Linked DNA regions of Homo sapiens. The protein of the gene in region 1 purifies or fractionates together with the protein of each later gene. This does not show direct contact. Each region holds a gene or a part of one and is shown in the gene's direction. Other genes may lie near its edges. The genes, in order: LETM2, PDIA6, ARPC4, CYP51A1, EIF3CL, NUCB2 and AP2A2.

What was found.
Region 2: the proteins of LETM2 (region 1) and PDIA6 purify together in Homo sapiens (affinity purification with mass spectrometry; one large-scale study listed by BioGRID and IntAct). This does not show direct contact.
Region 3: the proteins of LETM2 (region 1) and ARPC4 purify together in Homo sapiens (affinity purification with mass spectrometry; one large-scale study listed by BioGRID and IntAct). This does not show direct contact.
Region 4: the proteins of LETM2 (region 1) and CYP51A1 purify together in Homo sapiens (affinity purification with mass spectrometry; one large-scale study listed by BioGRID and IntAct). This does not show direct contact.
Region 5: the proteins of LETM2 (region 1) and EIF3CL purify together in Homo sapiens (affinity purification with mass spectrometry; one large-scale study listed by BioGRID and IntAct). This does not show direct contact.
Region 6: the proteins of LETM2 (region 1) and NUCB2 purify together in Homo sapiens (affinity purification with mass spectrometry; one large-scale study listed by BioGRID and IntAct). This does not show direct contact.
Region 7: the proteins of LETM2 (region 1) and AP2A2 purify together in Homo sapiens (affinity purification with mass spectrometry; one large-scale study listed by BioGRID and IntAct). This does not show direct contact.

The regions. Positions count from the first base shown.
Region 1 is NC_000008.11:38,396,147-38,400,091, forward strand, and holds part of LETM2 (LETM1 domain-containing protein LETM2, mitochondrial), read left to right. Parts: intron 1-769; exon of another isoform or gene 770-983; coding exon of another isoform or gene 984-986; intron 987-3,941; exon of another isoform or gene 3,942-3,945.
Region 2 is NC_000002.12:10,788,451-10,792,395, reverse strand, and holds part of PDIA6 (protein disulfide-isomerase A6 isoform d precursor), read left to right. Parts: intron 1-470; coding exon 471-601; intron 602-1,562; coding exon 1,563-1,677; intron 1,678-2,506; coding exon 2,507-2,647; intron 2,648-3,414; coding exon 3,415-3,499; intron 3,500-3,626; coding exon 3,627-3,699; intron 3,700-3,945. UniProt on the Homo sapiens protein: May function as a chaperone that inhibits aggregation of misfolded proteins. Negatively regulates the unfolded protein response (UPR) through binding to UPR sensors such as ERN1, which in turn inactivates ERN1 signaling.
Region 3 is NC_000003.12:9,799,358-9,803,302, forward strand, and holds part of ARPC4 (actin-related protein 2/3 complex subunit 4), read left to right. Parts: intron 1-827; coding exon 828-939; intron 940-2,303; coding exon 2,304-2,399; intron 2,400-3,945. Other genes in the region: ARPC4-TTLL3 fusion protein, read left to right, coding at 828-939, 2,304-2,399. UniProt on the Homo sapiens protein: Actin-binding component of the Arp2/3 complex, a multiprotein complex that mediates actin polymerization upon stimulation by nucleation-promoting factor (NPF).
Region 4 is NC_000007.14:92,117,287-92,121,231, reverse strand, and holds part of CYP51A1 (lanosterol 14-alpha demethylase), read left to right. Parts: intron 1-2,616; coding exon 2,617-2,712; intron 2,713-3,945. UniProt on the Homo sapiens protein: Sterol 14alpha-demethylase that plays a critical role in the cholesterol biosynthesis pathway, being cholesterol the major sterol component in mammalian membranes as well as a precursor for bile acid and steroid hormone synthesis.
Region 5 is NC_000016.10:28,400,727-28,405,400, reverse strand, and holds the start of EIF3CL (eukaryotic translation initiation factor 3 subunit C-like protein), read left to right. Parts: upstream 1-1,559; 5' UTR 1,560-1,614; exon of another isoform or gene 1,615-1,663; intron 1,664-1,752; 5' UTR 1,753-1,782; coding exon 1,783-1,883; intron 1,884-3,796; coding exon 3,797-3,862; intron 3,863-4,004; coding exon 4,005-4,194; intron 4,195-4,416; coding exon 4,417-4,542; intron 4,543-4,674. UniProt on the Homo sapiens protein: Component of the eukaryotic translation initiation factor 3 (eIF-3) complex, which is required for several steps in the initiation of protein synthesis.
Region 6 is NC_000011.10:17,283,206-17,287,150, forward strand, and holds part of NUCB2 (nucleobindin-2 isoform 1 preproprotein), read left to right. Parts: intron 1-3,428; exon of another isoform or gene 3,429-3,512; intron 3,513-3,945. UniProt on the Homo sapiens protein: Calcium-binding protein which may have a role in calcium homeostasis. Acts as a non-receptor guanine nucleotide exchange factor which binds to and activates guanine nucleotide-binding protein (G-protein) alpha subunit GNAI3.
Region 7 is NC_000011.10:987,998-991,942, forward strand, and holds part of AP2A2 (AP-2 complex subunit alpha-2), read left to right. Parts: intron 1-554; coding exon 555-692; intron 693-3,945. UniProt on the Homo sapiens protein: Component of the adaptor protein complex 2 (AP-2). Adaptor protein complexes function in protein transport via transport vesicles in different membrane traffic pathways.

The DNA.
Region 1 (3,945 bases):
ATTTTATTTTTTTATTTATTTATTTTTTTTTTTTTGAGATGGAGCCTCGCTCTGTCGCCCAGGCTGGAGTGCAATGGTGCGATCTCGGCTCCCTGCAACCTCCACCTCCCAGGTTCAAGCGAGTCTCCTGCTTCAGCCTCCCAAGTAGCTGGGATTACAGACATGTGCCACTACACCCAGCTAATTTTTGTATTTTTAGTAGAGCCAGGATTTTGCCATGTTGGCCAGGCTGGTCTCGAACTCCTGACCTCAGGTGATCTGCCCACCTCAGTCTCCCAAAGTGCTGGGATAACAGACGTGAGCCACTGCGCCAGGCCGAGTTAATTTTTATGAAAACTGTAATGTCAGTATATAGATTCATTTCTCTCTTTTTTGTATGTGGATATCTAGCTTTTCCAGGACCATTTGTTGAAAAGATTTTCTCTTCTCCACTAAATTCTAACTTGATTTTAACTGTCAAAAGAACAAAGAGAACAGGCTGGATGCAGTGGCTCATCTCTGTAATCCCAGCATTTTGGGAGGCTGAGGTGGGAGGATTGTTTAAGCCCACGAGTTCAAGACCAGCCAGAGCAATATAGTGAGACCCCTGTCTCTAAAAAACAAAAATTTTAAACAAATTAGCCAAGTGTGGTAGCATGCACCTGAATTCCCAGCTACTTGGGAGGCTGAAGCGGGAGGATTGCTTGAGCCCAGGAGGTTGAGGCTGCAGTGAACTGAGATCAGGCCACTGCACTGCACTCCAGCCTGGGCAAGAGTGAGATCCTGTTTAAAAAAAAAAAGAATAAAGAAAACAGAAATCCACTGTTACCGCGGTGACTAGTGGAACAGTAGGTATGATTTAGTCAGCCCAACAGACAGTTCAGCAGCCCCTGAGAAGAGGGAGCCTTCACTGAGTGTGGCAGTCACTGTGCCGGTGAGAAAACAGAGGCAGCTCCTTCCTTCTCCCCGTTCTGTGCCACTCTACTAGACAGCGTTGACAGCATATGGTAAGAAAGTGTGAACAAAACATTATGAGAAGACAAAAAGTGCAACTTTTTTTTTTTTTTTTGAGACGGAGTCTCGCACCATCACCCGGGCTGGAGTGCAGTGGCACAATCTTGGCTCACTGCAACCTCCGCCTCCCGGATGCAAGCAATTCTCCGGCCTCAGCCTCCTGAGTCGCTGAGATTACAGGCGCCTGCCACCACACCCAGCTAATTTTAAGGGCAACTTTTAAATCAGTAAGATTGGAAACTTTTTCACAGAAAAGGTAACTTTGGAACTGAGACTTAAAGAGTAAGTGGCATTTTACCATGGTCTGGGAAAGGTATTCTGGATAAAAGGAATAGCATTTAACATGGCTCAGTGGCATAAGAGAGTATGATGTAATCAGAGACCACTGGTTGGTTATTTGTGGTTGAAGTAGGCAGTTCCAGGGCATCAATGACAGGAAACAGACAAAGTGATGTGTTGGGGTCAGGTTGGAAGGCATCCACCCACTTAAGGAATTTAGGCTTTCCCTTTCACCATGGTGAATAATGGAAAGGGAACGTTTGAAGCAGGGTAGCTGGGTGGATGACATGATTAGATCTATGTTTTGGAGGAATAATTTTGCTGGCAGGAGGGGCAGCAGAGGGTAGAGCCAAGGAAGGGAAACCAGCTGGAATGCTAGCCCAAGAGAGAGATGACAGAGAATACATTATGAAATTGACAATAAGAATAAAGACTTGAAGGCCGGGCGTGGTGGCTCATGCCTGTAATCCCAGCACTTTGGGAGGCCGAGGTGGGTGGGTCACTTGAGGTCAGGAGCTCAGTACGAGCCTGGCCAACATGGTGAAACCCCATCTCTACTAAAAATACAAAAATTAGCCTGGCATGGTGGCACGTGCCTGTAGTCCCAGCTACTTCAGAGGCTGAGGCAGAAGAATCACTTAAACCTGGGACGCAGAGGTTACCAAGAGCCAAGATCATGCTACTGTATTCCAGCCTGGGCGACAGAGTGAGATTTTTGTCTTAAAAAAAAAAAAAAAGAGACTTGAAGACAAATTCGGGATACCTTCACAGGATAAATCAAATTACAATATTTGACTGCCTGGCAATGTTTTAATTTGCTTACATTTAAAATAATCAGCATCTAGAATTAATGCCATAACATTCCAAGGAAAGTATTAGTGAATTCAGGAAGATGGGGGGAATAGAGGAAGTGATTTATTTAAATGTTACCTCTTTCCTGAACACCACTCATTCCCTGAAACATACAAATATGTCTACATCATGGCCACAGTCTCAGAAAATTCTTGTTTGCTTTGTTCCATGGAGAGAGGAGCTTTCTGTTTACATCAGATCACAGCACCATGTATTTCTCTTTCATAGCACTTACCCATTATGCTTCTATATTAATGTGAGGAATTGTGGGATTATCATTAGTCACTAAAGTTTGTCTCTCCCACTACACTAAAAGTTCCATGAGGGCAGGAATTCTTACCTGTTGTTGCTCATTTTATCCCCAGTACCTAATATGGTAGATGTGCAATAAATAAATGGATAGATGGATGGAAGGATATGGATGAATGAAATGGATGACTAAGTGGGTTCTTTTTTTTTTTTTTTTTTTTGAGACAGAGTCTCGTGCTGTTGCCCAGGCTGGAGTGCAGTAGCGTTATCTCGGCTAACTGCATCCTCCCCCCAGGTTCAAGCAATTCTCCTGCCTCAGCCTGCTGAGTAGCTGGAATTACAGGCATGTGCCACCACGCCCGGCTAATTTTTGTATTTTTAGTAGAGACAGGGTTTCACCGTGACAGGCCAGGCTGGTCCCAAACTCCTGATCTCAGGTGATCCAGCTGCCTCGGCCTCCCAAAGTGCTGGGATTACAGGTGTGAGCCACCTCATCCGGCCACTAAGTGGGTTCTGATCATACTATTGTGTGATTTTTTTTTTTTTGGCTGTATCTTTTAAGATCTATCTAAATATCAGTGATTCTTATGATTGGCTGATCATTAGAATCTCCTAGGCAACTTAAAAATATACGTAGATTCCTGTTCTTCTTTACCACCCTGAGTCCTGACTGTGGTTATTTTGAAAATGCTACCATACTACATTTCTGATGATTAACAAGGATTAAGAAACACCAGCCAACACAGTGTCCATTTACTTTTCTTCTGTGTAGTGCTGTGTTCATGTCTGTTAGAGCACTTAACTCACTGTATTGTAATTACTTATGTCTGTTTTCTAGTTAAACTGTAAGCCACATTAGGTAGAGTCCATTTCCTAGTTTTCTTTGTTTGTAAAGAAAAACCCAGGGCCACTCAAGGAGTTAGCTCAACTGGCAGACTGGATAGTTTGCACCAGGTTGAGATCGTATCTCATTCTTGTCTGGGCGCTGTGGCTCAAGCCTGTAATCCCAGCATTTTGGGAGGCCGAGACAGGCAGATCACTTGAGGTCAGGAGTTCAAGACCAGCCTGGCCAACATGGTGAAAACCCCTACTCTACTAAAAATAAAAAATCAGCGGGGTGTGGTGGCGTGTACCTGTAATCCCAGCTATTCGAGAGGCTGAGGCAGGAGAATCACTTGAACCCGGGAGAGAGAGGTTGCAGTGAGTCAAGATGGTACCTCTGCACTCCAGCCTGGGTGACAGAGCGAAACTCCATCTCAAAAAAAAAAAAAAAAAAATTAGCCAGGTGTGGTGGCACACACCTGTAATCCCAGCTATTCAGGAGGCTGAGGCAGGAGAATCACTTGAGTCTGGGAGGTGGAGGTTGCGGTGAGCCGAGATCGTGCCACTGCACCCCAGCCTGGGCAACAGAGTGGGACTTGATCTCAAAAAGAGAGAGAGAGAGAGAGAGAGAGAGAGATAGTATCTCGTGCTAAATAATTATAAAGCCTCCCATTGGGGGAACATTTTGGATCTATCAAATGCTTATGATTATTGTATTAGTGAGAAAGAAAAAGTAAGGAGACAAGTTCC
Region 2 (3,945 bases), on another chromosome or scaffold:
TGACTGCTTCTTAGATTTAGTACTGAAGAACATTCTTCGAAAAAAGAAAAGGATTAAGTGTTATTTTTAGCTCTGTTGACTGGTAGGGACTTTGTCTATGAAAGATGTAACATAACATCCTAGGATGAAGCAGCAGCTGTACTTGAGTCTGAATTAGAACAGTGTTGTTCAGGTGGTTTTTTGAGCCATGTTGAGGTTTCTCTCTAAAAATAGCTGGTGACAGCATTCAGGTACAGGTTATGTGTTGTACTGAATGTATTGATAATTACTTGAAAGTAAAAGACTATTTGCCAAGCAAAAATTACAGTGCTGAGGAATGTACCCAATTTGAATACAACCGTTTTCACTATTTTATTCACTAAAGAAAAACCCTAAAACTTTGTTAAGATGTAGCAGTAGTGTTATTATTTAAAACAGGAAAAGTGTTCTTCTTGGCCCAATTGTTTGATGTTTAATGTCATAAATGACAGGGCAGAAGTGATAGTTCAAGTAAGAAGGATGTGATTGAGCTGACAGACGACAGCTTTGATAAGAATGTTCTGGACAGTGAAGATGTTTGGATGGTTGAGTTCTATGCTCCTTGGTGTGGACACTGCAAAAAGTAAGTGCCTTCTACTAAGTAGTCTGTTCATTCACAGTGTTTTCAGTACATTCATTAGCTTATTTTGAAAGAGCTGAAGTAGATAATAGATCACCACTAAGATCTCTTCCAGCAAAACTCTGACTCTAAGTGAATATTAAACATTGACATTAGCGCCAAGAGCTTCCACTCTCCTATTGCCAAAGATTAACAAGGGACTGGCTCATGTCTGGATTTAGGGGCAGTGGTGGAATGGGAAGCTCATGTGAAGGGTAGCATTGTATCTTTAGTAAAGCCACACACAAAATGTTTTCTAGGTGTGACATAATTGGGGATTGGGCAGAAATGCACAGATCAGTTAAAAAGTATAGGCTAGGCATGGTGGCTCACACCTGTAATCCTAGCTCTTTGGGAGGCCGAGGCAGGCGGATCACTTGAGGTCAGGACTTTGAGACCAGCCTGGGCAACATAGCAAAACCCCATGTCTACTAAAAATACAAAAAAATTGGCTGGGTGTGGTGGCGTGTGCCTGTAGTCCCAGCTACTTGGGAGGTTGAGGTGCAAGAATCTCTTGATTGTGGGAGGCAGAGGCTACAGTGAGCCAAGCTCACACCACTGCGCTCCATCCTGGATAATAGAAGGAGACTCTGTCTTAAAAAAAAAAAGAAAAGAAAAGAAAGGTGTTTGGGCTGCAAGTTAAAATGCAAGTATTTGGCCTGGTGAGGTGGATCACTTGAGGCCAGGAGTTTGAGACCAGCCTGGGCAACATGGGGAAACCCTATCTCTACTAAAAATGTAGAAATTAACAGTGGGTGGTGGCACACACCTGTAGTCCCAGCTATGTTGGAGGCTGAAATGAGATCACCTGAGCCCAGGAGATTGAGGCTGCAGGGAGCCATGATTGCACCACTGCACTCCAGCCTGGGCAACAGAGAGAGACTGTGTCTCAAAGAAACAAAACAAAACGAATATTTTTCTATAGCCTAGAGCCAGAGTGGGCTGCCGCAGCTTCAGAAGTAAAAGAGCAGACGAAAGGAAAAGTGAAACTGGCAGCTGTGGATGCTACAGTCAATCAGGTTCTGGCCTCCCGATACGGGGTGAGTATACTTATAAGGCTCATTTCATTGTGAAATACATGGTGTTTCGTTACTTCTTCCAATACTCCAGGCCTCCCTATGAGGTAGTAAAGGAGATGTTTAAACCATTTTGTAAGTGAAGAGATAAAGTCACTTTATTGTCATAACTAACAAGTCTGAAACTCAGGACTGTCAACTTTTCCCCCTAATGTCACACTGCTTCTGGTATATACTTAATGTGAGGTTTCAGCTTGCCCAGACTTATTCAAGTTGCTCATATGGCTGTTGTGAGTTGGTCCATTTGTTCTAGGGCAGGTACTTTGTGTTAATTATATACCAGGGCTTGAATATGATTGGCTAAACTTCACAGACTGTTAAAACTCCCTGATTGATAATTGACCTCTGTGAGTCATTCCTTTGAAATCTGTGCAGTCTGGAGAACAGTTTTGTTACATTAAATTACCTATAAGGCCAGAGTGGTGGCTCACACCTGTAATCCCAACACTTTGGGAGGCCAAGGATCACTTGAGGCCAGGATTTCAAAACCAGCCTGGCCAACATGGTGAAACCCCGTCTCTATTAAAAATACAAATATTAGCCGGGTGTGGTGGTGTGTGCCTGCAGTCCCAGCTACTCAGGAGGCTGAAGTAGGAGAATTGCTTGAACCCAGGAGGCAGAGGTTGCAGTGAGCTGAGATTGCACCTGTGCTCTCCAGCCTGGGCAACAGAGTGAGACTGCTTCAAAAAAAAAAAAAAAAAATTACCTATAAGGTGGTTTTAGAAACTGTAAAGATTGTGTTATTTTGCATTAAGTGTTAATTGGATTTTATCCTCTGACCTTTTTTTAATAGATTAGAGGATTTCCTACAATCAAGATATTTCAGAAAGGCGAGTCTCCTGTGGATTATGACGGTGGGCGGACAAGATCCGACATCGTGTCCCGGGCCCTTGATTTGTTTTCTGATAACGCCCCACCTCCTGAGCTGCTTGAGGTAAACCACTTCAACTGCTTGTAGTCCAGAAAGCTTTTTTAGCTGATGGTGAGGAATGTTAAAGCAGTGTGACACACTGTTCATTTTATGCCCTTAAAGATACTCTCTTTAAAGTGGTTTCTATACTTTGAAATGGAAAAAAAGTCTGATAAATTGCTTTTCATAACTTTTAGCATTAGAATAATTACACTGAACAGAAATACGAGCTTCTTAAAGATAGAGTGTATTCAATCACTCTTGCTTATCATTCTCAAAGTAATAGAACATTTATCAAGTACTAATCATGTAACAGGCACCGTTCTGGTGTCTTTGTATAGTTTTGTTTTGTTTTGTTTTGTTTTCATTTAATTCTCACATGAACACTGAGAGGTAGATACTGTTTTTAATCTCCATTTTATATATGGGGAAATTGAGGCACAGAGCCTCAAGTGTGTATAAACATATAAGACATATAATACATGTAAGTATAATCTATTTAAACAAGTAAGTGGCAGAGCCAGGCTGTGTCCAGGCATTGCGATTTCAGAGATGTTTGTATGTGTGCTAATCACCCCACCTCCACCACCACAGCTTCCACAGGCTTAAGAATCAGTAGCAGAAAAATCTCCTCTTAGAGAACATGCCTCCAGGTGTTTCCATACGAGGAAGTAGTCGTGGGAGAAATGTTTTCAATGAAAGTGACGGTGCGAAGGTCTTGTTTGCCAGCTTACCTTTAGGTGTTGTATCATGCAGCCTCCTGATTGTCCCTTGTCTTTTGGGTCCCACAGATTATCAACGAGGACATTGCCAAGAGGACGTGTGAGGAGCACCAGCTCTGTGTTGTGGCTGTGCTGCCCCATATCCTTGATACTGGTAAGACAGACGGAAATGATTTCCCTTAGCTGTTCTATGCTAGATGCTCTGAGAATACTTTCTAAATGGATTAATTTTATGGACTCCTTTATCTTTACCTTTAAAAAACTTTGTCTATTTAAATCAGGAGCTGCAGGCAGAAATTCTTATCTGGAAGTTCTTCTGAAGTTGGCAGACAAATACAAAAAGAAAATGTGGGGGTAAGTTACTGAGCTTACTGTCTGAGTGTCATCTGAACAGCTGATTATAGGCTTTCTTGAGAGTGGTTCCCCCGTGTTTTTGTAAGCTGTGTTCTATGTTTGCTCTGCTATATGTTTTTTTTTTTTTTCCCTCCTGCCTCAGCCTCCCAAGTAGCTGGGATTATAGGCGCCCGCCACCACACCCAGCTAATTTTTGTATTTTTAGTAGGGTCAGGGTTTCACCATGTTGTCTAGGCTGGTCTCAAA
Region 3 (3,945 bases), on another chromosome or scaffold:
AACCAGTTGAGCATCCCTAATTCCAAATCCAAAATGCTCCAATGAGGATCTCCTTTGAGCATCTTGTCAGCACTCGGAAACTTTCAGGTTTTTTTTTTTTTTTGAGATGGAGTTTGATTCTGTCACCCAGGCTGGAGTACAGTGGTATGATCTTGGCTCACTGCAACTGCCACCTCCTGAGTTCGAGCAATTCTCGTGCTTCAGCCTCCTGAGTATCTGGGATTATAGGAGTGCGCCACCATGCCCAGCTAATTTTTATATTTTTAGTACAAATGGGATATCACCATGTTGGCCAGGCTGGTCTCGAACTCCTGACCTCAGGTGATCCACCAGCCTCAGCCTCTCAAAGTGCTGGGATTACAGGCATGAGCCACTGTGCCCAGCCAGTTTCAGATTTTGGATTTCAGATTTGCAGATTGGGGATGTTCAACTTGTAGTTACTAAAATAGCTATCTTTTGTAAAGCTCCTACTATGTGCCAGGCACGCTATTAGACATTTGACCCTTTTTGATCTCTCTCAGTCCTCGCCAGTGAATTAGGAATCAGAGTCATTTTACAGATGAGAAAATTGAGATTCCAACAGGGTAACTTGCCCAAGGAAAGTAACAGAGGAGGCTGGATTTCAAAACCTTTTCGCCCTGACTTCAGAGCCTGTGCTCTTTCTGCTGAAGAACACACTCACTGGCCCCCATCTTGGAGCACTCCTGCTTGTGAGTCTTCTATTCCTTGGACTCTATGGTCTCATAGTGATTCCAGGACCTGCGTGGGGTCACTCTGACTATTCTATCCCTCTGTAGTACAAGTACTCTGTCACATTATGTTTTCAGGAGTAGCAAAGAGCTCCTGTTACAACCTGTGACCATCAGCAGGAATGAGAAGGAAAAGGTTCTGATTGAGGGCTCCATCAACTCTGTCCGGGTCAGCATTGCTGTGAAACAGGTAAGTTCACCATGGAGGAGGCCCAACGTAAGGCCTCTTTCAGTCCTTTCAGCCTCTTTCAGTCCGGGGTCCCCATCTGAGAGATCAGTGTGCCAGATTCCAGATTCAGAGTGCAGGAAACCTAGCCTCTGCTTCCTTTTTTTTTGACACGGATTCTCACTCTTGTCGCCCAGGCTGGAGTGCAGCAGCATGATCTCAGCTCACTGCAACCTCTGCCTCCCGGGTTCAAGCAGTTCTTCTGTCTCAGTCTCCCAAGTAGCTGGGATTACAGGCATCCGCCACCACGCCCAGTTAATTTTTGTATTTTTAGTAGAGACAGAGTTTCACCATGTTTGCCAGGATGGTCTCCATCTCCTGACCGCAGGTGATGGGCCCGCCTCAACCTCCCAAAGTACTGGGATTACAGTCATGAGCCACCATGCCTGGCCAGTAGAGGGCAACTCTAAACTTTCAACAGGATGAAAACGAAGCACTGTTATTAAATGCAGACTACACACTGTTTTCTACAGAAACTTATAAACCTGGGGCCTGCTTTCCTTGCTAAAATGGGAGGTTAACAAGTGTTGAGAGGTGTTAAGGGCATGCTAGCAACCAGCAGCAATAATCTTCCTTTAGAAATGTTGAGAGTTCAGGGCCAGGCACAGTGGCTCATGCCTGTAATCCCAGCACTTTGGGAGACCAAGGCGGGTGGATCACTTGATGTCAGGAGTTCAAGACCAGCCTGGCCAACATGGTAAAACCCTGTCTCTACTAAAAATACAGAAATTAGCCAGGCGTGGTGGCACGCGCCTGTAATCCCAGCTACTTGGGAGGCTGAGGCAGGAGAATCGCTTGAACCCGGGAGGCAGAGCTTACAGTGAGTCAAAATCGTACCACTGCACTCCAGCCTGGGTGACAGAGCGAGATTCCATCTCAGAAAAAAAAAAAAAAAAAAAAAAAAAGAAATGTTGAGCATTCAGAAGGGAGAAACTTCAGGGATTGTTGGATGTTCAGTGTTATTAAAGCAGAGACCACCTAAGGTTATCTCTGATAGCCCAGGTGATGCTGCAAAACACCCTGGGAAATGTGACACTAGTGAAATGAGAATGGAAAGGGCAGCTTGGAGTACAGCTGTAGACTCTGAAAGAAGCAATAGAAGCCTGTCAGAATTACCTCTCTGGAATGGGTCGTCATTAAGAGATGCCCCAAGGTAGACCCTTGTTTCAGTTGACAGCCAGGTCCCCCACTTCAGTGATCCTTCCGAGTACCAAACCTCACTGTCTCCTGGGAGCCTTGAAAAAACTGGAGTCAGAAGACCAGGCTACAAGGTGTTTTTGGCCTTGGGTGTCAGCTTTAGAGAAACATTTCTCTCTTGCACTCCCCAGGCTGATGAGATCGAGAAGATTTTGTGCCACAAGTTCATGCGCTTCATGATGATGCGAGCAGAGAACTTCTTTATCCTTCGAAGGAAGCCTGTGGAGGTGAGACCCTGTGACCCATGAGTTTGCGATACCCAGGACCCTGTTACAGAATGGCCTGGGATTGTTTCTAGAACCAGCTACTCCAGCTGTTTGGCACCCACTGCCTGAATTGAGAGTTGGCCTTCATCTTGGAGTGGGAGCAAAGAGGATTAGAAGCTTAGGAAAAGTTGGGTCTACCTCAGCCATAGAAAAGGCAAAAAAGAGCCGGGCGTGGTGGCTCATGCCTCTAATCCCAACACTTTGGGAGGCCGAGGTGGGTGGATCATGAGGTCAGGAGTTCAAGACCAGCCTGGCCAACATGGTGAAACCCCATCTCTATTAAAAATACAAAAATTAGCTGGGCATGGTGGTGGGCGCCTGTAATCCTAGCTACTCAGGAGGCTGAGGCAGAGAACTGGTTGAACCTGGGAGGCGGAGGTTGTAGTGAGCCAAGATCGTGCCACTGTACTGCAGCCTGGGCGACAGAGCAAGACTCCGTCTCAAAAAAAAAAAAAAAAAAAAAAAAGGCAAAAAAGATAAGACACATTGCTTATTCCCGGAGCCTATAGTCTAGCATCAGAAAGAGCACAGTGAATTAGAAATCCTTTCTAAGATCTGCCAAATGAATCATAGTCTCTCTCTCTTTTTTTTTTTCTTTGAGACGGAGTCTCGCTCTGTCGCCCAGGCTGGAGTGCAGTGGCACAATCTTGGCTCACTGCAAGCTCCGCCTCCCGGGTTCACGCCATTCTCCTGCCTCAGCCTCCTGAGTAGCTGGGACTACAGGCGCCCACCACCACACCTGGCTAATTTTTTGTATTTTTAGTAGAGACGGGGTTTCACCATGTTAGCCAGGATGGTCTCGATCTCCTGACCTCGTGATCTGCCTGCCTCGGCCTCCCAAAGTGCTGGGATTACAGGCTTGAGCCACCGCGCCTGGCCTTTTTTTTTCTTTTTTTGAGATGGAGTTTTGCTTTTGTTGCCCAGGCTGGAGTGCAGTGGCGCAGTCTCACTGACTGCAACCTTCCACCTCCCAGGTCAAGTGATTCTCCTGCCTCAGCCTCCCGAGTAGCTGGGATTATAGGCACGCATGTGCTACCATGCCCAGCTAATTTTGTATTTTTAGTAGTTTCATTGTGTTGGCTAGGCGGTCTCAAACTCCTGACCTCAGGTGATCCGCCTGCCTCGGCCTCCCAAAGTGAATCATAGTCTGCAATCTGGGCTCACTGCAAGCTCCGCCTCCTGGGTTCACGCCATTCTTCTGCCTCAGCCTCCCGAGTAGCTGGGACTACAGGTGCCCGCCACCATTCCCGGCTAATTTTTTGTATTTTTAGTAGAGACGGGGTTTCACTGTGTTAGCCAGGATGGTCTTGATCTCCTGACCTTGTGATCCGCCCACCTCGGCCTCCCAAAGTGTTGGGATTACAGGCGTGAGCCACCGCGCCCGGCCCACTGAATCAGTCTCTTAAAGCCACAGTTAACATTGGGTCAGTTGTTGCCTGAATTTGTACTTGAATCTTCTCCACAGACTCCTTGCCAGGTAAACTTAAAATATCCCCAGTGACTAAGC
Region 4 (3,945 bases), on another chromosome or scaffold:
TGGCTTACTGCAACCTCGGCTTCCCAGGTTCAAGCTATTCTCCTTCCTCAGCCTCCCAAGTAGCTGGGTACACACCACCACGCCTGGCTAATTTTTGTATTTTTGGTAGAGACAAGGTTGTACCATATTGGCCAGGCTGGTCTTGAACTCCTGACCTCAAGTCATCTGCCCGCCTTGGCCTCCCAAAGTGCTGGGATTACAGGTGTGAGCCACCATGCCCAGTTGGTATTTTGTTTTGATTTTGCATTTCCCTGGTGACTAGTGATGTTGAGTGTCTTATGATGTGTTCTTTGGCTTTGGTATACTTCTTTGGAGAAATGTCTGCTCACATCCTGTTCCCATATTTAAAATGAGTTGTCTTTTTATTATTGAGTTGTAAGAGTTCATCTATTTTTTTTTAATGTGCTTTTGGTGTCAGAGAAACTAATGCCTAATCAAAGTGTATGAAGATTTATTTCTGTGTATTCTTCTTAGTGTTTTGTAGTTTCATATCTTACATTTAGGTCTTTGATCCATTATGAATTAATTTATGTATATGATGTGAGGTCATCATTCTTTTGCATGTGTTTATCCAGTTGTCCCACACTGTTTGTTGAAAAGACTATTTTTTCCACGTTGAATTGTCTTTGTAAAAAAATCTATTATAGCCAGGCGCAGTGGCACGTGCCTGTATTCTCAGCTACTGAGAAGCTGAGATGGGAAGGTCGCTTGAGCTCAGGACTTGGGGTCCAGCCTGGGCAACATAGCGAAACCCTGTCTCTGAAAAAATAAATACATTTTAAAAAGCCTCTTGACCATAAATTTAAGGCTTTATTTCTGGACTCAGTTCTATTCCATTGATATGTTTAGTCTGATGCCATTACGTAGTTTTGTAATAAGTTTTGAATTCGGGAGTGTGAGTCCTCTGACTTTGTCCTTTTCAAGGCTGTTTATCTACTCCTAGTCCCTTTAGTTTCCATATGAATTTTGGGGTCAGTGTGTCAGTTTCTGCAAAGAAGCTAGCTGAGATTTTTGACAATGATTGCATTGTATCGCCATATTAATTTGGGAGCACAATTTTAGTCTTTAAATCTGTGAACATGAGATGTCTTTCTCTTATTTTAGTTCTTTAATTTCTTTCAACAATGTTTTATAGTTTTTGGTGCACAATGTTTAAACTTCTCTTGTTAAATGTATTCTTAAGTATTTTATTATTGTTATTTTTTTGATGTTATTCTTTCTTCTGCCAGTCCAAATCTGCTGTTGATCCCCTCGGGTGAATTTTTCATTTCAGTTCTCATACTTCTCAGTTCTTGAATTTCTATTTGGTTCTCTAAAAAAATAATATATTGATATTCTCCATTTTACTAGAGATATCTAGGCATATTTTGCTATAGTTCTTTGAACCTGTTTATAATAGCTGATTTAAATTCATTATCTAGTAAGTCCAATGTCTGGGCTTCTTCATGGATAGTTTCTATTAAACTGCTTGCTTTTTCTATGTACTGGCCATACTTTCCTGTTTTGGTGTGTTTTTTGTAATTTTTTTGTTGAAAACTGTACATTTAAAATAATGTGGCAACTGTGGAAATCAGATGCCCTCCTCCCTGGGTTTATTGTTGCTGGCTCTTTGTTGTTGTTGTTGTTGCTGCTGCTGTTTGTTTACTGCGTTTCCTGGATTAATTATGTCATTCCTTGTTCAGTGAGGTCACTGAAATCTCTGCTTGCTTACTTTAGTGGGCATCTAATATTTGGACAGAGATTTACTGAAGTGCTTTGAACAGCCAGTCTCCTAGCTTTTGCTGAAAGGCTCTGTATGTGTGTGTTAGGGGATGTTATTAACACTCCAACAGGCAGTTACAAGTCTGCCTTCACTACCTGTGTGTACAGGTCAGCCAGAGGTAAAAGATTACAGCCTCTTAGATCTTACCTGGGCATATGCATGGTCTTATACATATGTGTGGCCTTCAAGATTCTCTTATGTTGGAACTTTTCAAAGTCTCCTGTGGACATCTTACTCCCCAGTTTTCCCTTTTAAACTTCTTGTTCTGTCTCTTAGCACCAACTGATATCACCATCTCAGGCGCCTTCAGTGTTAAACAATTTTTGCTAAATATTTTTGGAAAATTTGCTCTGGCTCCTCTAATAGTTGTTAGGCTTCTGGCTTTCACAGCTGCTATAGTTGTCATGCTGTTGGTTTCCGGGGCTACCATGGATTTGGGGAGAGGAGGATGAAAGAAATACAACTTACACTACCACAAAGCTTACTCTTCTTACCAAGATTCAGATTTCTTTTTCTTGAATTAACTCTCCTTAGATTGTTGCAAGCCTTTGGTTAATCTTCCAGAATTTTGAAAAAGTTGACATTAAGATTGTTGCTACTGTTTTCATTTTTTGGAGGAGTGAATTTTTGTAGGTTCTTACTTCATTCTTCAGGGCAATCGCTTCTGTTACCTTGCCCTCCTTTTTCACCATGGACAGTGGTAGAGCATGATAACCCCAGCCACCCTGAACCAGTTACCTCTGTACTTTTAGCTGGAATGCAAGCTGTCTTGTACTAACTAAGAAGTTAAACTAATTTTTTGTACTGTTGAAGTATGTTATTTATAACAATCAGGAAATGCTTTCTCATTTTAGCTCAAGGATCTAAATTTACTTGATCGCTGTATAAAAGAAACATTAAGACTTAGACCTCCTATAATGATCATGATGAGAATGGCCAGAACTCCTCAGGTGAGTATCTTGGCTACATCTTCCCCTCTATACCCCCAGTTTTTATCAAAAAGAAGAAATAGGTGGGTGTGGTGGTTCACACCTGTAATCTCAACACTTTGGGAGGCTGAGGTGGGAGGATCACTTGAGGCCAGAATTTGAGACCAGCCTGGGCAACATAGTGAGACTGACCTCATCTCTACAAAATTTTTTCTAAAAATTAGCTGGCCATAATGGCACATGCCTGTGGTCCCAGCTGCTTGGGAGGCTGATGTGGGTAGATTGCTTGAGCCTGGGAGGTTGAAACTGCAGTAATCCATGATCACGCCACTGCATTGCTGCCTGGGCAACAGAGCAAGACCCTGTCTCAAAAAAAATAAAAATAAAAAAGAAAGAAAAAGAAAAGAGGAAGTAGAGTAGCATAAAAGAGATTTTTTTAAATTAAAAAAGTAGAATAATCACTTCTACCTAATCTTCAGTTTTATATACTCTAAAAACATATTTTTACCTAATTGTAGATAGTATACGTGCTAATCTGTTTTTTTTTTTTTTGAGACGGCATTTCACTCTTGTTGCCCAGGCTGGAGTGCAGTGGTGCGATCTCAGCTCACTGCAACCTCCGCCTCCCGGGTTCAAGCAATTCTTCTGCCTCAGCCTCCCAAGTAGCTGGGATTACAGGGGCATGCCACCATGCCTGGCTAATTTTTTGTATTTTAGTAGAGATGGGGTTTATCCATGTTGGTCAGGCTGATCTCGAACTCCCGACCTCAGGTGATCCACCCGCCTTGGCCTCCCAAAGTGCTGGGATTACAGGTGTAATCCCGCGCCCGGCCTACATGCTAATCTTTAATGCTAATCATGTTCTGCATTTTTCTTTAACAATTGGGGTTTTAAAAATCAAAGTACATATTTTTCTTGGTTTTAAAAATAACATTTTGTTGTAAAAAATTGTTAATATGAAGTGTACAAATTGATAGTGAAAGCCTCTCTGAAATTCCAACCCTACCTCCAAGGCATTATGGGTTTGATTTGTGTACTGTGTACTTCCAACCCAACGCTGGCTCACTGGAAATCATCTTGAGTTAAAATAATTTTTAGTTTGCCTATTATCTAGCCAGTTTTTAAATATATGTACAGATGGTTCTTGATTTATGTGATTCAACTTATAATTTTTTGACTTTATGATGGATTTATCAGGATGTAAACCTATCATAAGTCAAGGAGCATCTGAGTATCCCATGTATATTCATGCTT
Region 5 (4,674 bases), on another chromosome or scaffold:
AAGAGCAAAACTCCATCTCAAAAAAAAAAAAAAAAAAGATATTTATGGATTTACAGACGTACAATGAACCCCTTGGTTTTTTTTTTTAACTTTTTTTTTTTGGAGACAGAGTCTTGCTCTGTCGCTCAGGCTGGAGTGCAGTGGCACGATCTTGGCTCACTGCAACCTCCACCTTCAGGGTTCAAGCAATTCTCCTGCCTCAGCCTCCTGAGTAGCTGGAATTACAGGCATCTGCCACTATGCCAGGCGAATTTTTGTATTTTTAGTAGAGATGGGGTTTCACCATGTTGGCCAGGCTGGTCTCGAATTCCTGACCTCAAGTGATCTGCCCACCTCTGCCTCCCAAAGTGTTGGGATTACAGGCATGAACCACCATGCCCAGCCTCATATTAAGTTTTGACGGTGCTGGGTGGGTTGTGAGTACATAGATGTCCATTGGAATAGTCTTTATTCTTGTCTGTTGAAATATTTCACAATAAAAAACAAAACGGCCAGGTGTGGTAGCTCATGCCTATAATCCCAGCACTTTGGAAGAGCATGCTCTTCCCTTCCCAGCACTTCCCTGTCCCGCTCCCATATCAAAACCACCTTGAAAAATGTAACACAGTCCCTTGCACTAAAACCTCTGCCGATGGCGGCTCCAAACCACAGGCCTATAAAGACCTGCAAGATCTAGCATCGTCTACTTTTTTTTTTTTTTTTTTTTTTTTTGAGACAGAGTCTTGCTCTGTCACCCAGGCTGGAATGCAGTGGTGTGATCTCTGCTCACTGCAATCTCTTCCTCCTGGGTTCAAGTGATTCTCCAGCCTCAGCCTCCCACGTAGCTGGGATTACAGGCAGGTGACACTGTGCCAGGCTAATTTTCGTATTTTTTAGTAGACACGGGGTTTTGCCATATTGGCCAGGCTGGTCTCGAACTCCTGACCTCAGGTGATCCACCCACCTCAGCCTCCCAGAGTGTTGGAATTACAGGAGTGAGCCACTGTGCCTGGCTAGCATTGTCTACTTTTTTTTTTTTGAGATGGAGTTTCGCTTTTGTTGTCCAGGCTGGAGTCCAGTGGCTCGATCTCGGCTCACCACAACCTCCGCCTCCCGGGTTCAAGCGATTCTCCTGCCTCAGCCTCCCGAGTAGCTTGGCTTACAGGCATGCACCACCACGCCTGGCTAATTTTGTATTTTTAGTAGAGATGGGGTTTCTCCATATTGGTCAGGCTGGTCTCGAACTCCCGACCTCGGGTAATCCGCCTGCCTCGGTCTCCCAAAGTGCTAGGATTACAGGCGTGAGTGAGCCACCGCACCCGGCAGGATTATCTACTTCTATACTATTAATGCCTATTAATGCTGTAATTACACGCGTGAGCCACTGCGCCCCGCCGATCTTCGTGTTTTAAATCCCGACACCAACGCGCGGTAGGATTCGCGACGCCTGCAGCCAAGGTCTCAGCGCCCGGTTCCCTCAGGCTTGTCCCCGCCCCCTTATGGCGCGAAGGCCACTGGGAGTTGTAGTCTCCCAGTGTAGTTAGTCGGCGCTTCCCGGAAGTGACGCGAGGACCCGCCTTCTCTCTCGGCGTTTCCGCTGTCAGGGCCCTGCGGTGTGACTCGCGGGCTCAGCTGGTTGGTATTTTTTGGGCCTCGTGCTTCGTGGTGGGAGACCCAGGTCGAGGTCCGGGTGGGGCCGGTGAGGGGTTGGGCGTCGGGAGGTGTTGGCTCGGGCCTCTTCGCGTGGCCGGTGACGCCTTGGCTCCCCCGCAGGTCCGGCCGTAGCACCTCCGCGCCGTCGCCATGTCGCGGTTTTTCACCACCGGTTCGGACAGCGAGTCCGAGTCGTCCTTGTCCGGGGAGGAGCTCGTCACCAAACCTGTCGGAGGCAACTATGGCAAACAGTGAGTTGCGGGGGCTGTGGCTGTGACCATTCTGGGAGTGCGGGGTTAGGCAGGCTGTGGAACGCAGTGCACATGGGAGGGGATGGAGGTGAGGGCGGGGAGAGTGGGTTTGGACAATGACCAGAGTTTGCAGGATCGGAGCGGTGTTGGAGAGAGACAGCCTTAGAGGGCTGTGATAGCCGGTAGCCACCCACCAGGCACAAGGGATAGAATCACAGAGGTTTCCCAAGCCAGATCTGTTGCATCAGCTTCTTAACTGGCCTTAAGTCTACAGCCTCTACCTGTCTCCTCTCATTTTACCGCCGAGAAGTCCTTAGTGACTTCTCACTGCTCACAGAAGGAAATGCAAAATGCTTGATTGGTATCTGGGAGCCCCCTGATGCGACTCTGAAGTCTGGTCACCTGCTGTGTACGCAGGTGCTTAAACATTTTATATGCCTGTTCACCTCTACGTAAATACCCATCCGCCATTTCTGTACATTAATTTTTTTTTTTTTACCCTTTGGAACAATAGAATGGTTTTTCTTTTTCCTTTTTTTTTTCTTTTTTTGAGGGGTCATAGCTCACTGCTGCCTCGACCTTCAGATCTCAAGCGATCCTCCCACCTCAGCCTCTCAAGTAGATGGGACTACAGGTGCACGCCATCGCAGCAGGCTAATTGTTTTTAATTTTTTGTAGAGAAGGTGTCTCACTGTGTTGCTTAGACTGGTTCTGAACTCCTGGGCTCAAGTGAACCTCCCGCCCAGCATTCTAAAGTGTTGGGGTTACAGGAATGAGCCACTGTGCCCCACTGGAATGGTGTTTCTTAAACATCTGCCACGTTTGTGCTACTGTTTTAAAAGTATGTATTGCACATGTATATGCCAATATGCATATGGTTTCGTATCACTTCCACAGGTGGAAACCAGTGTCATTTGCCATAAAATACCAAATAATCCAGGCTGGGCAGGTGGCTCAAGCCGGTAATCCCAGCACTTTGGGAGGCTGATTACTTGAGGTCAGGAGTTTGAGACCAGCATGGCCAATAAGGTGAAACCCCGTCTCTACTAAAAATACAAAAATTAGCCGGTTGTGGTGGCACATGCCTGTAACCCCAGCAACTTAGGAGGCTGAGGCAGGAGAATCTCTTGAACCTTGGAGGCGGAGGTTGTAGTGAGCCGAGATTGCGCCATTGCACTGCAGCCTGGGCGATAAAAGCAAAACTCCACCTCAAAAAACACCGCTAAAATAATCCAAAAAATAATAAAAAGGGAAAAGAGGCAGGCAAGATGGTGCATGCCTGTAGTCCCAACTACTCTGGAGGCTGAGGTGGGAGGATCCCTTGAAACTCAGGAGTTGGAGGCTGCCTGGGCAACATAGTGAGACCTTATCTCTTAACAAACAAAAAGAGTAGAGATACTGTTGCTGACTGTGAGCCTGTGGTCTGGTCTTATTATCGTAGAAAAATACTAGCAGTGGAGGTGTTAATACCATTGAGACTTTCTCCTTGCTGTTGGCCTCTCATACTTTGGGAAATGTTGCTAAGATCTAGTTTAGGTACCACCTCCCTAAAGCCTTTTCTGTTCATTATAGCTCAAGTATCATTTTTCTCTACCTCTTTTTTTATTCATTACTTCTGTGGTGACTTGTGTCTCTATGTCATTAGTTACACAGTAAATTAGCACTTTCATTTGTTTTTGAGAGGATAGTGAATGTCATCTTTGTGTTGCTACAACACTGAGCAAAAGGCCTTACTTAGTGTACACTTAAAAGATTGAGTTGTATATGAAGTGGCCCTGAGGAGGAGTCAAAAAGAGGATGGGTGTGGTGTGGATGGCCTGGATTACTTAGTTCTACCTGTCCTGAGTAGGGAAATACGGATCTCTTGGAAAGACTGGGAAAGGAGGTTAATGGCCTCTGTTCCTTCCAAACAGGCCATTGTTGCTGAGCGAGGATGAAGAAGATACCAAGAGAGTTGTCCGCAGTGCCAAGGACAAGAGGTAAAGCCATGGCGAGGCTGGGTGATGGGAGTCTCTGGGAGCAATGAAGCTGTGGGGAGGCTGGGTGATAGGAGTCTCTGGGAGCAGTGGTGAGTTTTCCCTCGGTGGGCACGTTCAATGTGGTATCGGGCTCCCAACCCAGGTTTGAGGAGCTGACCAACCTTATCCGGACCATCCGTAATGCCATGAAGATTCGTGATGTCACCAAGTGCCTGGAAGAGTTTGAGCTCCTGGGAAAAGCATATGGGAAGGCCAAAAGCATTGTGGACAAAGAAGGTGTCCCCCGGTTCTATATCCGCATCCTGGCTGACCTAGAGGACTATCTTAATGAGGTGTGATGCCTATATTTATTACCACCACTTATTCATGGTTTTGTACTTTTAGTGGTGGGATGTATAGGATCTTTTAAAAATAAGCTAACAGATGTAGTTAATAAGTAGTACCAGTGGTGTTCCAATAGCAAGACTCAAAAGTGGAGAAGAAGCCTGGAGTTTAGGAAATGTTACTTAGTTTCAAATCACTGTTCTCTGTTTCTTTCCTCTTCTTCCCTTTAGCTTTGGGAAGATAAGGAAGGGAAGAAGAAGATGAACAAGAACAATGCCAAGGCTCTGAGCACCTTGCGTCAGAAGATCCGAAAATACAACCGTGATTTCGAGTCCCATATCACAAGCTACAAGCAGGTGGGGAGGCTAGAGGCACACTTACTGAACTGGGAACAGTGACCCCGTGACTGAGGCCCAAAGATGGAATTGCTAGTGGGAGGTGTGACTGGAGCAGGAAGATGACAGAACTGTCTGGGGTGGAGGGGTGGG
Region 6 (3,945 bases), on another chromosome or scaffold:
CAAGATAGCTGCCAGAGCTCTAACCATCACTGTCATGTTCCAGGCAGCAAAGCATAGGCGAAGAAAGATGCATCCTCTTCCTTTAAGGAGAATTCCTGAACCAAGGCTGAGGCTATAAGAAAGCAGGGAAATGTAGCTGACTGCATGTCTGCCCTCTATAAAATTGGGCTTTTGTTACTGAGAAGGAAGGAAAGATTTGGATATTGGCAAGCAAATAGAAGTGTCTGCCATGATATGAATCTTTTTATCTTTCAGCTCTGAAATCTGTAAGCTGTGATAACCACTCATAGAAGCTTCTATAATTTGCCATGGCAGAGATATAAGTCTGACTATTAACTACAGAAGGAAATAATCTTCATGTAATAAATTGTGTTTCTGTTTTTACTTTTAGCCCTTAATTCATTATAGAAGCTTTTCTGTCTTATTTGTGGATTTGTTCTGGTTATTTTTTAAAATTACCCATAAATGCTCAATAGATGTTTGTTGTACATTTTATGGTTGTGTTAAAAAGAGCTAACATTTATTGAGCTACTTGCTATAATCAAGGCACTAAAATGACAGAGATAAGTTATCCCAAGGGTATCACATAACTAATCATCAGGAAGTAAATTTATATTGAAAGTAAATATAATTCATCTCAAGATACATTTCACTATGGTCACATGAGGAACACTTGCCTTCCTTGCTAGCTAAAAGTAGTTTGTTCTTTTTCTTTCCTTTCTTCTTTTTTTAACCACTTAACTGTTAGTTGTCTTGAAATTTTCTCTTACTACTAGTTCTTGCTTAACTTATTTAGCCACACCAATATTTTATTTCCTTCCAGACTTTTATTTTTTTTGTTGAGACGGAGTCTCACTCTTTCACCCACGCTGGAGTGCAATGGCTTAGTGCAACCTCTGCCTCCTATGTTCAAGCGATTCTCCTGCCTCAGCCTCCTCAGTAGCTGGGACTACAGGCATCCACCACCACACCCAACTAATTTTTGTATTTTTAGTAGAGATGGGGTCTCACCATGTTGGCCAGGGTGGTCTTGAACTCCTGACCTCAGGTGATCTGCCTGCCTCAGCCCCCTACAGTGATGGGATTACAGGAGTGAGCCACCGTGCCCAGCCCCTTCCAGACTTTTCTTTGTGAATATTATATAAATATACCCTATACTTGTCCTGCAAAATGGTTCAATTGTCATTATTTCTATTTCAAAAGTAAACTGAAATAAATAGCTTTGAGAAAAAGAAATTCAGGGAATGGAAATTGGAGTGAGAAAGATTCTAAAGATTCAGTCAATCTTTTAGAGTTTTTAGAAGGGAGACAGTAAGTTAAGATTTTATTTCTACACAGTATATTTGTATTTTTGAAAGTTTTTACATTTTTTGGTTGTATTAGATAGGCACAAAGTACAGTAGTTCTTTTGCTGCTAGTATTGCAGTTTCCTTTTTTCTGATCTAGACTTGTTGACCTCAAACAAAATAATCAGGAGACTTGTGACCATAAAAACAACCCAGTTTTTAAGAGACATTTAACGTTATAAATCACCTGACTGAGAATGTCTGTTTGGTGAATACCATTTTCATGACTTTTAATTTTTTTTAATTAACAGAAAAGTATCATGCTATGCATTGTTTTGTAAGCAGCATTTTAAAAATTGCAATTGTATTTAATAGCTTACCTTCCTCACTAGATTGAAGCCCTGTGAGGGTAAGGACTATGTCGATCTCGCTTACCTTTGTCTTCTAGCATAGTATCTGGTACCATAGTCATTACTTAATACATAAATATTAGTTTAGTTTTGTTTTTAGAAACAAAGTCTCAATACATACATACATACATACATACATACTTATAATAGGTTAAAGGAAACATGCTTCAATTCAGCCATTAATTGAAAAGGAAGAGGGGCAAAAGAAGAGGGTTGAGGAAGATGGAAAAAGATACATAAAAGAGGCTGGGCGCGGTGGCTCATGCCTGTAATCCCAGCACTTTGGGAGGCCAAGGCGGGCAGATCACAAGGTCAGGAGATCAAGACCATCCTGGCTAACATGGTGAAACCCCGTCTCTACTAAAAACATACAAAAAAATTAGCCGGGCGTGGCTGGGTGAGGTGGCTCACGCCTATAATCCCAGCACTTTGGGAGGCCGAGGCGGGCGGATCACGAGGTCAAGAGATCGAGACCAGCCTGGACAACATGGTGAAACCCTGTCTTTACTAAAAAAAACACAAAAAATTAGCCAGGCATGGTGGCATGCGCCTGTAGTCCCAGCTACTTAGGAGGCTGAGGCAGGAGAATTGCTTAAACCCAGGAGGCGGAGGTTGCAGTGAGCTGAGATTGCACTACTGCACTCCAGCCTGTGCAACAGAGCGAGACACTGTCTCAAAAAAAAAAAAAAAAAATTAGCTGGGCGTGGTGGCGGGCACCTGTAGTCCCAGCTACTCAGGAGGCTGAGGCAGGAGAATGGTGTGAACCCGGGAGGCGGAGTTTGCAGTGAGCCAAGATCGCGCCACTGCACTCCAGCCTGGGTGACAGAGTGAGACTCCGTCTCAAAAAAAAAAAAAAAAAAAAAAAGATATATAAAGGAGGAACAGAGACTACTTCCAAGGAAAGAGAAAATTTTCAGTTTTCTGTACTTTTCACCCTGGTTATCTATGGTAATTTTTTTTAACCACTTCCAGGATATCTTGCCCAACAATCAAAACAGGAAACCATCACACATACATGCGCGCACGTGTGCGTACACACACACACACACACACACACACACACACAAAGCAAACTTAATCTGTATAACTATGGGTATAAATCAGTAGCTAAGAAATCTGCCTCTGTGTATGAATGGAAATTTTATTTTTTGAGACATGTTCTCACTCTGTCACCCTGGCTAGAGTGCTGTGGCGTGACCATGGCTCACTGCAGCCTCAACCTGCTGGGCTCAGGTGATCTTCCCACCTCATCCCCCACCAAGTAGCTGGGACTACAGGCATGTGCCACCATGCCCAACTAATTTTTGTATTTTTTGTAGAGACAGAGGTTTCACCATATTGCTCAGGCTGGTCTTGAACTCCTGGGCTCAAGGAATCCACCCTCCTTGTCCTCACAAAGTGCTGGGATTATAGGCAGGAACCTCCGTGCCCAGCAGAATAGAAATTTTGACTTGGTTGAGACAGGGGAAGAGAGATTAGCTTTCTTTTAGGACTTTAAAATTTAAGGAAATTATATCTACTGAATACTAAGAGAAGCTTAAGAACTCTGCTTACTTTGTAATTTTACCAGAGGCTCTGATGCCTTTGGGGTCAGTGCCTCCCATTCTGTCTTGAGATGACTACATAATTTAGAATTTCACACCATCCTACTTTAGAGAGTAAATTATCAGCCTGTCCTGGTTTGGATGAGTCTACTGTTTCAGCCTGGTTCAGCCCAGTGTCTCCTCTTTAGGTCCGTATCTCTCTTATGAAAGAAGAGGGTGATAAAGGAAAGGAGAAGGCCATTCTTACTGACCTGATAGTGGAAGAAAAGTAGGTTAGTTCTCCTTCTTCCTATTGCCTGTCCTTATCACTCATCTCTTTCTTCTATATGGATATTTGTATATTTTCTCATTCATGAAAATCTGTAAACCTAGTAAATTTGCTGTTATTCCTTTAATGCAGACACATTTGACATCTTGGCATTTAAAGAGACTTTTGTGTCATTATTTTTCTGCCTAATGTGCTGGAATACTTACCATTTTTTTTTTAAATACAGTTGATGTTTATGGAGGCCTTATTAAGAATTAGAGTCAGTGTTTAAATTAATTGTCCTAGTTATGTCTAGAATAAGCACTAACAGATTAGAAACTAGTAGAAAACATTCTCCATCAATCAAAAATAAATTTAAAAGGCAAGAAAGGAGAGGAAATAAATGTTAAAGAGGTAGGATAAATAGAAAGCCCTACCAGCCTGAGCAACATAATGAA
Region 7 (3,945 bases), on another chromosome or scaffold:
TCCCTATTGTCAGAAGGGCTGGACACTCATTTGCACACGGCCAGTGCTAGCGCTGGTGGTGCCCACTCTCCTGCCTTTGTTGGGAGCAGAGCTCGGGCTTTCTCGTGCTGCAGAGCCTCCTGGGGGCCCATCAGCACGGGCTCTGGGGTGGGGCGTGAGGACCTGCCTTGGGGCAGCTCCGTGTCCGAGGCAGTGGGGTCTTTGGCTGCATGGAAGGGAGTCCTTGATGGCCTGCACCAGGCAGTGCGCTCAGTCCTAGCGAAGCTGGCCCTTGTGGAGGGCAAGGGAGGCATGGACGAGCGGGCAGAATCCAGGCAGTGCGCTGGGTCCTAGCGAAGCTGGCCTGTGCGGGAGGGCCGGGCCAGCAGGCGGAACTCTATTCCGGGCTGTCCAGACACACGTGGCCCGAGTGCAGGTCGGCTCCCTGGACCTGGATGTGCATGTGAGGGAAACTCAGAGTGGGTGTTGAGATGCGGGTGCCGAGCCTGTCCCCAGCCTGTCCCCAAGCTTGTGCCTTGCTCCTGCGACCTCTTACTCTGTGCCTTGTTCCCCAGACTGAGCGGGACGTGAGCGTGCGGCAGCGGGCCGTGGACCTCCTCTACGCCATGTGCGACCGCAGCAACGCCCCACAGATCGTGGCCGAGATGCTGAGCTATCTGGAGACAGCTGACTACTCCATCCGAGAAGAGATTGTGAGTTCTGGTGGCCTCTGAGTCCTCTCCTGCCACAGGCGTGAATCTCAGCGGCAGGATTTCCTTCGTGCTCTGCGATTCCGTCCAGCAGGACTTGATTGAGAACCCATGAGATGCTGAATACAAGGCTCCTCTGCCTCTGTGTTTTCATCCACATTTTCAAGCTGGGTGTGGTGGCACCTGTGGTCCCCGCTACTCCTGAGGTGGAGGCGGGAGGATCACCTGAGGCCAGGAGGTTGAGGCTGCAGTGAGTCGAGATCATGTCACTGCACTCTAGCCTGGGCAACACAGCGAGACCCTGTCTTAAAAAAAAATCAGCATTTTTGGTAGAGTCGTTTGGTCTTGAAAATAACTATTGGCCGGGTGTGGTGGCTCACGCCTGTACACCTTGGGAGGCCAAGGCGGGCGGATCACCTGAGGTCAGGAGTTCAAGACCAGCCTGACAAACATGGGGAAACCCTGACCCCGTCTCTACTGAAAATACAAAATTAGCCGGGCGTAGTGGCGCATGCCTGTAATGCCAGCTACTCCGGAGGCTGAGGCAGGAGAATCGCTTGAACCCGGGAGGCGGAGGCGGAGGTTGTGGTGAGCCGAGATTGCGCCATTGCACTCCAGCCTGAGCAACAAGAGCGAAACTCTGTCTCAAAAAAAAAAAAACTAAAATGCCCGTCCTGCGCGGCTTCTGTGGCCTGCCTGTCCTTGCAGTGGTGGCACTGTAGCCCCAGGTCTGAGTGAGGCTCCAGCCGTCTGCGCTGGGGCTGCACAAATCCAGACTCCTGTGGGCAAAATTCTTTTAATTGTGTTGCATTTTGAGCCCTTGAATTAATCCTTTGTGGCTTGGCTTTTTTGGGTGTCCCTCTTGATCTCTGGGAAGGACGGGATCTAGGCCATAGCTTAATGTCCCGTGTTGTTTTTATTCACAAAGTAGGTGTGCACACTTGCCAGATAGCTGAAGCTCATCAAACCTGTACGTGTGAAAGACTGAGCATGAACCAAAACCTGAGGGAAGAAACCCTTGTGGAGGCCACATGGTCAGCAGAGAAGAGGGCCTGAGGCCTCCACCACACTCACAGGCCTCTCAGGCTCACCGTGTCTGTGGATGGTGGGGTTTAAGGGGGAGGCCCGGTGTCCTCGCGTGGGGTTCGCCACTGTGACCAGCCAGGACCACAGCCTCTTGTTGAGGCTGAGACAGCGCCTCCGTTGTATAGAAAGCGCTTTGTTATTTGTTTTTTTTGGGCGAAGTGCGGCTCAAGGCCTCCTTGGGAGCTTTGCCGAGAGCCAGTGTTGGAGCTAGTGGCAGGTGACAGGGTTGCTCTGGGCAGGTGTTGTGTGGTCATGCCCAGGTGAGAGACTCGGGTTTTCAGGGGTCTTTTAGTGAACGGAGGAGCCCAGGTGCTGGGGCTTCAATGCTGAGGGGTGAAATTACCATGGACTGAGCTTCAGTGAGGCACTGCAGACCTGCAGAGAGCAGGGGCCAGGAGGCGGCTCTCACGCTGGACTGTCCACCCTCCAGGACAGTGGGCCTGGGAAGTTGAGGGGGACAGGGACGGGGTGGGCTGACTCCCGGCAGGAGGCCCCAAGGGCAGGCACCGTGGTGTAGGGCAGGGCTGTCTGTAGAGGGGCCAGGCAGGTGCTCGTTGACTGTAGCCAGTGGTCCCTCTCTGGCCTGGCTGGGGCAGTGTGGCCTGGTGTCAGCACTTGTGGTGGGGTGGGGCTGGCTCTGGGGACGGCCGTCACGGGAGCCTCGTTCCTGATTGTTGTTCTGGGTGTTTTGAACAGAGACAGAAGCAGTGTGCTTCTGAGTGCAGTTGTGCAGATTTTGAGGTCCTGGGCATTCGTCAGCCCGGTGTCTGCTCTCGCCCCTCTGCGTGATGAGCGGCAATCCTCAGCCAGCTCCTGCTGTGAGGAGTAAGACAGGTGCTGTGTCTTGGCCTGCATGATGCTCCCCCCAGCCCGTCCTTTCAGCCGGACATGATGCTCCCCTCACCCCATCCTTTCAGCTGGGCATGGTGCTCCCCCACCCCATCCTTTCAGCTGGGCATGGTGCTCCCCCCACCCCATCCTTTCAGCCGGGCAGGGTGCTCCCCCCACCCCGTCCTTTCATCTGGGCATGGTGCTCCCCTCACCCCATCCTTTCAGCTGGGCATGGTGCTCCCCCCACCCCATCCTTTCAGCTGGGCATGGTGCTCCCCCCACCCCATCCTTTCAGCTGGGCATGGTGCTCCCCCCACCCCATCCTTTCAGTCGGGTATGGTGCTCCCCCCACCCCATCCTTTCAGTCGGGTATGGTGCTCCCCTCCGTCCTTTTAGCCGGGCATGGTGCTCCCCTCCATCCTTTCAGCCGGGCACGATGCTCCCCCCACCCCGTCCTTTCAGCCGGGTATGGTGCTCCCCTCCGTCCTTTCAGCCGGGTATGGTGCTCCCCTCTGTCCTTTCAGCCGGGTATGGTGCTCCCCTCCATCCTTTCAGCCGGGCATGGTGTTTCCCTCTGTCCTTTCAGTCGAGCATGGCAGGGCGTGTTCTCTGGCTGTGCTAGGTGCTAAGTGTCCAAACTGGACATGGCCCACTCCCTGCCTACTCGGCACCTTGCCATCCATGGAGGGGGACGGATTGAGAGCAGGACCGTGGGTTGCTGTGCTGTGGGTGGGATGGCTGGAGGAAGTGCCTCATGTTCTGGGGGCCTCAGGAGGCATTACACTCCTGGGGGGCTGTGTGGACTTCTGCAGAAGGTGATAGTGGCCTGGTCTGGAGAGGATGATGGTGCAGAGGCTACTGGGAGGGCAGAGCATCCGTTCGTGGAGGGGTGGGAGGTACCTTAGCACAGGCTGGGGAGCAGGGCACGCGAGGCAGGGGTGGAAGCAGACATGGGGACCCTGCCAGTGAGGCCTGAGGGCCCCTGGTGCACAGCCGTGAGCTGCGGGTAGGGCTCAGAGGCAGTACATTTTGGAATGATGCCCTGGAAGTGTCACGGAGTCAGGTTGGGGTTTGGGGGTCCAGGCTCCAGGCAGGGACTTGGGGTGGGGGGGCACAGTCACCAGCACCTGAGAGGCCAGTGGCAGGGTGTGGAGAGGGGGCGGCAGGGTGTGGGGAGGGGCGGCAGGGTATTAGGGGTGCCCTCGGGAGGTGCGCGGTCTTGATGCCTGCTGGCGTTGGTGTTGGCAGCTGGCGCTGTTCGAAGGGGGCTTGGTTCCAGGCGAGGTGACTTTGGGGAGATGAGTTTGGTGTTGTACAGCCTGGCAGAGCTCCATGTGGG